Linked DNA regions of Homo sapiens. The protein of the gene in region 1 purifies or fractionates together with the protein of each later gene. This does not show direct contact. Each region holds a gene or a part of one and is shown on either strand. Other genes may lie near its edges.

The links. The genes of interacting proteins can lie anywhere in the genome.
Region 2: the proteins of RGS7 (region 1) and GNAZ purify together in Homo sapiens (affinity purification with western blotting, with the first as the bait; one study listed by BioGRID). This does not show direct contact.

Annotation. Positions count from the first base shown.
Region 1 is NC_000001.11:240,774,877-240,777,811, reverse strand, and holds the end of RGS7 (regulator of G-protein signaling 7), read left to right. Parts: intron 1-1,598; coding exon of another isoform or gene 1,599-1,649; 3' UTR 1,650-2,298; downstream 2,299-2,935. UniProt on the Homo sapiens protein: GTPase activator component of the RGS7-GNB5 complex that regulates G protein-coupled receptor signaling cascades.
Region 2 is NC_000022.11:23,094,519-23,098,018, forward strand, and holds part of GNAZ (guanine nucleotide-binding protein G(z) subunit alpha), read left to right. Parts: intron 1-728; 5' UTR 729-1,177; coding exon 1,178-1,900; intron 1,901-3,500. UniProt on the Homo sapiens protein: Guanine nucleotide-binding proteins (G proteins) are involved as modulators or transducers in various transmembrane signaling systems.

The DNA.
Region 1 (2,935 bases):
TCATGAAGGTGAAGCCCTTATGAACAGGAGCCTTTATCAGATAGGTCCCAGGGAGCTTATTTCCTTCTTCCATTATCTGAGGACACAACGAGAATGCACCATTGATGAACCAAGGAGAAGGCCCTCACTAGACAAAGAATCTATAAGTGTCTAGATCTTGGACTTCCCAGTCCTATAAGAAATAAATTTCTGTTGTTTATAAGCCACTTAGTCTATCGTTTTCTGTTATAGCAGCCCAAACAGACTAAGGCAATGGCCATGAGTGATGATGTATCTCCCATCACCGCTGACCCCTTTCTAAAACTGAGCCACATTAGGTAGCAAATCAAGAGTATTGCTATGACTGTGATTTATTACTAAAATATATGTTTCCAATTTTTTAATTTTTACTTATCTTCTGAGATGTACAAAAATTCATTAAATAACTGGCCCACATAATTTTATAATAGAACATATAAAATAAGACATGAAATGAAAACCAGCAGTTTTGCATTCCGATCAAACGTTTCAAATTTCTATTTTTTTTTTTGAGACAGAGTCTCGCTCTTGTCACCCAGGCTGGAGTGTAGTGGCGCGATCTCAGCCCACTGCAACCTCCGCGTCCTGGGTTCAAGTGATTCTCCTGAGTAGCTGGGATTACAGGTGCCCGCCACCACGCCTGGCTTATTTTTGTACTTTTAGTAGAGACGGAGTTTCACCATGTTGGCCAGGCTGGTCTCGAACTCCTGACCTCAGGTGATCTGCCCACCTCAGCCTCCCAAAATGCTGGGATTACAGGCGTGAGCCACTGCGCCCGGTCTCAAATTTCTTATCTCTCTAGAGTACTTGTGATTAACAGCAACACTGTTGACTTACAAGATTTCTAAAACATAAGTATGTGCTTTATGTAATCATATGATTTGTGGAATCAGAATAGAACAGATTTTTTCTTGTATTAGGGTTGGAAGAAGTCAGGTAGGAAAGAACAGGAAGACATCAACAGCTAGAAACAGGGAACAAGTAGACTTTTATCTTCAGATATATAATTGGCACCTTTTTATCCATTATTATGTAAGATAGGGAACAGACTCAATCTTGAGTTTCATGAATCACACCCTCAAAAACTGCATTTTATTTAATTAAATCGTATCCTCTACATTTCTAGATATTTATAAATGTGACATTAATTTCAGCCATTGAACAAGAATGCACTCACATTATCTTTCAGAGCAGCTTACTAAGATTTGTTGTAACATGTTTATAATCAGTTGGGAACCTAGGTGTTGCTTCATTGCTAAGCCTTGATGGAGCATTTATGGATATGTTTTATGATTTGCTAATCTGTGCTGTGAAACCATCAGTCTGTTTGCAGTGGGGAGGAAGGATTTGGGAGGGGTAGGAGGGTGGAGGGAGGGAGGATAGTTTTGTTTGACGTGTCAGTGGAGGGAGGGAGGGGGGAAGGCAGGTTGGTCATGAGGTTTGAACTAAGATGGACTTAAAGGGTTCAGTGTTGACCTTGCACAAAAATCAGCTACAGTAAATAGTTGCTACTACTAAGCAGGTTTTCAGTGATCGTACTTGATTTTCTTTCTTTTCTCTTGTTTTATATATTTTCTCAGGGGAAATCTCTCACGTCCAAGAGGTTAACAAGCCTTGCTCAGTCTTACTAAACGGATCATCTTGTAGCATGAATGCAGACTGGAGTCACTGCACACACTTTGTAGCTCAATGTTGTGACCTGGAGCAGAGGACATTAGAACAAGATGTTGCATGAGCAAAGGACCTAAATTGTTATTTTTGTGTGTACATTCCATCTCCAATGGACTCTTCCGTCTCAATGCCTCCATTCCAAACTGTTGTCTGCTTTCTTTCTCCTTCTACTATGCTGGATCTGTGTCTCTTCCTTTTTAACAAGTTCAAGTGAAGTAAAACCTTTTCTTTTTTTCCTTCTTTCTCTCTCTCTCTCTCTCAAAGCTTCAGTTAGACACACAGTTCACTGAAAATTCAGTCAGTCAAAAACTGGAAGAACTGTAAAAGAAAAAAGTATATATCAATAAGTATACATGTGGCTTCACATTTATTAAACAATAAATTCCGCACAGAAAGTTTCATTTCACCAATGTGTCACAGTCAGAAACAAACTCATGTCTTCGTCTGTTGTCTGTACATTCTCCGTTAATGTTTCTCGCATTTATTTTTATACCATATTTAAAGAAGAAACACCTTTTACTCCAAATGTATTAAAGTTGATCCCTTCTCTGTAAATTTGTGTATGTTTATATTGTTGTTTTATCTTTCATTAAAAGATGCAGAATCTCATTGCTTTTGTAACTTTTGACTTCCATGCTAACTAAAAAGGAAAATGCTGAGAAATCCACAACCCACTACCGCAGAGTTAAATTTAGGTTGTCACCTTGAAATTTATTTCAAGGTTTCAAGACAAGCTTGGATAGTACGGAAGCCAGGGGCAGATGGAAATATTTTTTGGAGGCTTACCTGAGACTTAGTAATCCTTTTTCTCCCATGGAAGAACAACACAAATTGATGTTCCACATTTTCAAAGCTATTTAAAAGGCCTTTCTGCCTCATGATGAATATGCATCTGTATATTTTGCAAATTAATATTTCTGTTTGAATTAAGCTTGAGTGTGACTTATTAAATCAGGTACTGATTTGTTCTTTAAAACACAATTCTAAAAATATCATAGCTCAGTGTCTCTTAACTTTTTGGAGGTTACAGATTATTTTGAGAATACAGTCACCTCTTGGCATCCCTGGGAAATAATTGGTTCCTGGACCTCCTCAGATACCAAAATCCACAGATGCTCAAGTCACTAATATAAAATGGTGTAGTGTTTGCATATAAACTACGTAAATCCTCCCACATACTAAGTCATCTCTAGATTATTGTAATATCTGATACAATGTAAATGCTATTAGTTGTTATACCGTATTT
Region 2 (3,500 bases), on another chromosome or scaffold:
TGGATTTCCCCGCAGCACCACGTGCAGCCCCCAGCTCCTTGGTCTCAGCCCAAGCCCCCCTCTACCTCCTTCTGCAGGAGTGAGGCAGCCCCTGCCCACTGTGCTTAGGCACCTCACGGTGCTCCCACAGCCTGAAGCCTCCACCTTGCTCTGGTCCCTGCCTATCTGCTGGCTCCTGGGCTGGCCCATCAGAGTGCCCTCAAGGGAAAGCAGGGGCCAGGTCTCCCTCCTGGTGCTTTTCCTCCCTGTGATCAGAAGTGACCCAGCTCCTGCGGGGGTAATGAGAGTCAGGGAGGCGCTCAGTTATCCCAGGGCTGGGCCGAGGCCTGGCCACCCGTGTAAAACAGGGCAAGGCTGAGCTCTATCAGTGCTGTCTGGGAGAAGGGCCCCAGGGGGCATCACAACAGGGTGACCTTATTGAATCCTAACTGGATGCGGTAGAAGTGAGTCCAGCATGGGGGCTGGGTGGGCAGAGGCCTCGCACACACCCTCCTCTCCCTCATGCACCTGGCTTCAGGTGGACTGTCCAGGCAACAGCAGACATATGTGTTACACCATGGTGTGGGCCCTACAGCGCCCCATGGAGGAGAGGGGGTTGGATGGATTGTTGCCGGCTCATTTTCCAAGGCCAGTCTCTGCTGCTTTGCTTTCAGAAGAGCTCCCTTTCACTGTCCAGCCTGAGGTGGGGCTGCGGGGAGGAGGCTCACGCTTTTCTCTGTGTTTGGCAGGTGAAGGGCTGGATGCACAGTGGGAGCCGGAGGCGGGGGGCTGCAGGGAGCACACCAGCGACCGGCCCTCCAACCCTCCAGCCACTCAGCAACATCGCCACAGCAACCAGCAACCAGACGGCAGCAGCCGAGGCAAACACAAGCGGACGGCTTCCCACCGTCGCCGAGGACAGGGAATGACTACGGCAAATCAGGCCACTTTGCCAACTAGGGAGGTGGAGTGTCACTAGTGGGGAGGGGCGGCCACCGCCCGCTGCACAGAGCGCCATGCCGGCTGGAGAAGAGGCGCTGGGGCAGGGGCTGCAGTGTGGCTCGGCCTCACCCCCCTGCTGGCACTGAGTGCCTCCAGGGCAGCTGGGCTCTTGTCTGCCTGGTCTCAGTGTCCCCTGTGGCAAGAGGGAGAGGTGCCCCATCCCGTGCTCCTTGTCTGGGCCCGCTGCTGCCAGACCATGGGATGTCGGCAAAGCTCAGAGGAAAAAGAAGCAGCCCGGCGGTCCCGGAGAATTGACCGCCACCTGCGCTCAGAGAGCCAGCGGCAACGCCGCGAAATCAAGCTGCTCCTGCTGGGCACCAGCAACTCAGGCAAGAGCACCATCGTCAAACAGATGAAGATCATCCACAGCGGCGGCTTCAACCTGGAGGCCTGCAAGGAGTACAAGCCCCTCATCATCTACAATGCCATCGACTCGCTGACCCGCATCATCCGGGCCCTGGCCGCCCTCAGGATCGACTTCCACAACCCCGACCGCGCCTACGACGCTGTGCAGCTCTTTGCGCTGACGGGCCCCGCTGAGAGCAAGGGCGAGATCACACCCGAGCTGCTGGGTGTCATGCGACGGCTCTGGGCCGACCCAGGGGCACAGGCCTGCTTCAGCCGCTCCAGCGAGTACCACCTGGAGGACAACGCGGCCTACTACCTGAACGACCTGGAGCGCATCGCCGCAGCTGACTATATCCCCACTGTCGAGGACATCCTGCGCTCCCGGGACATGACCACGGGCATTGTGGAGAACAAGTTCACCTTCAAGGAGCTCACCTTCAAGATGGTGGACGTGGGGGGGCAGAGGTCAGAGCGCAAAAAGTGGATCCACTGCTTCGAGGGCGTCACAGCCATCATCTTCTGTGTGGAGCTCAGCGGCTACGACCTGAAACTCTACGAGGATAACCAGACAGTAAGTGGGGCCGGGGGTTTTCCTCTGCTTGTTCCTGCTGTCGTGGGTTCCTGGAAGCAAGAGGACTCGTGAGGTCCAGGACAGTCTGCAGCCAGAAAGGGAACCAGGCGCAGGCCTGGCCCTGCTGCACGATAACTGAGGCAGCTCCAGCAAGGTGGGGGCAGAGGGAACAGGGTGTGGAGTGCAGGTGTCATGTCCCATGCCTGAAGTACTCAGGGTGTGGAGGCCACAGGGCAAGAGAGTGTGAGGCTCCGCCGGGCATCCATGATCAATCCATGTGATAGTTTGGCAAATCCATGAAGCTCCTGCCAGCACCAGTCTCCTACCAGCATATAGGTCCAGGAACAGCAGCCACCCCTGCAACCCCATCTTGAGTCTGCAAATCTGGCAGAGATGGGGTTAAGAGCTGTTTAGAAGGGATAATCCCAGGTCCTGGTGGAAAGGGGACGACGTAAAAGCAGGTGTTGGGATTCTTTCACAGTGGCATGGGCGCAGCCCGAGGGAGACCTGGACCCAGTGTGAAGCGGTGGGGGCTTGAGAGTGGAGTTGCTGGAGAGGGTGGGGAGCCGGGTGAAGCAGCAGGGCAGTGTGCTGAGGCCCAGCCAGGACAGAAGGTCTAGCACACGAAGGGGGCCACAGCCAGGAGTGGCAGCGGTGGAGGCCGTGGCAGGCAAGGGAGGGGCTGTCTTGCCCAGCAGGATTCCCTGAGCACAGATTTCAAGTCTGCCCTTAAGAGAGAGGCCTTTGACCCTGGGGATGGGGGAGTGGGGGCAAACAAGGAGTCACGAAGTTGTGGGTACCCTGGGGCTAGGGGAGGGTGATGCTGGGAGACAAGGGCTCAGCCTCTCCACTTGGGAGCACTGGCCTCCGAGGTCACTCCTTGCTTCACCCAGTCCTAAGGCAAGCTTTATTCTTTAGGTTCAGCGGAGAGCAACAATGGTTCTAGCTTTGGACCTGTGCCCCAGCCAGGGAACCTGGACAGCTCTAGGCAGTGGCCATGGTGCTAGGAGCCTGAGTGTTCTGAGAGAGAGGATCTTTGGCTTTCCTCAGGCAGCTGGGGAGGCGGGCTTGCCTCCCTCCCCTCCTCGCATCAGGGGTCTCCCTGGAACTGTGCCTAGGTGTTGATGGTGTGCCTGGGGGAAACGAATGACGGACGGGCAGGCAGGTGTGTACGCAGGCGGCTGCGTCCACCCTGTTCCCAGTGTGTATCTGTGTGCTCTCCAGGGTTCTGGCCCCTTACCCTGTGGTTGCCACAAGTTCAGCCCCATGTGTGGTTCTGGGCAGAGGGGACATCTCAGCAGATGAGTGAGGTCAGGCTCCCTTGATGAGGCATGGCCGTGGGCAGAGCGCTTGGGGCTGAGAAGCTGCAAGGCAAAGTGAGGTGCTCAGGCCAGACCCTTGGGACAGTGCCATGGTGGGTCTGCCAGTCACACGGGCTTGCGCCACTGGCCTCACCCATCACCACAGTGGCAGGCGTGGCAAATTCCCCGGGCACCAGGCCTGGCTCCCAGTTGCATCCTTTGACAGGCCGTGCCCACAGGTGTGCTGGACACAGGAGGCAGGATACCTGGGTCCTGAGTCAGTCCAGTTTTTCATGGAG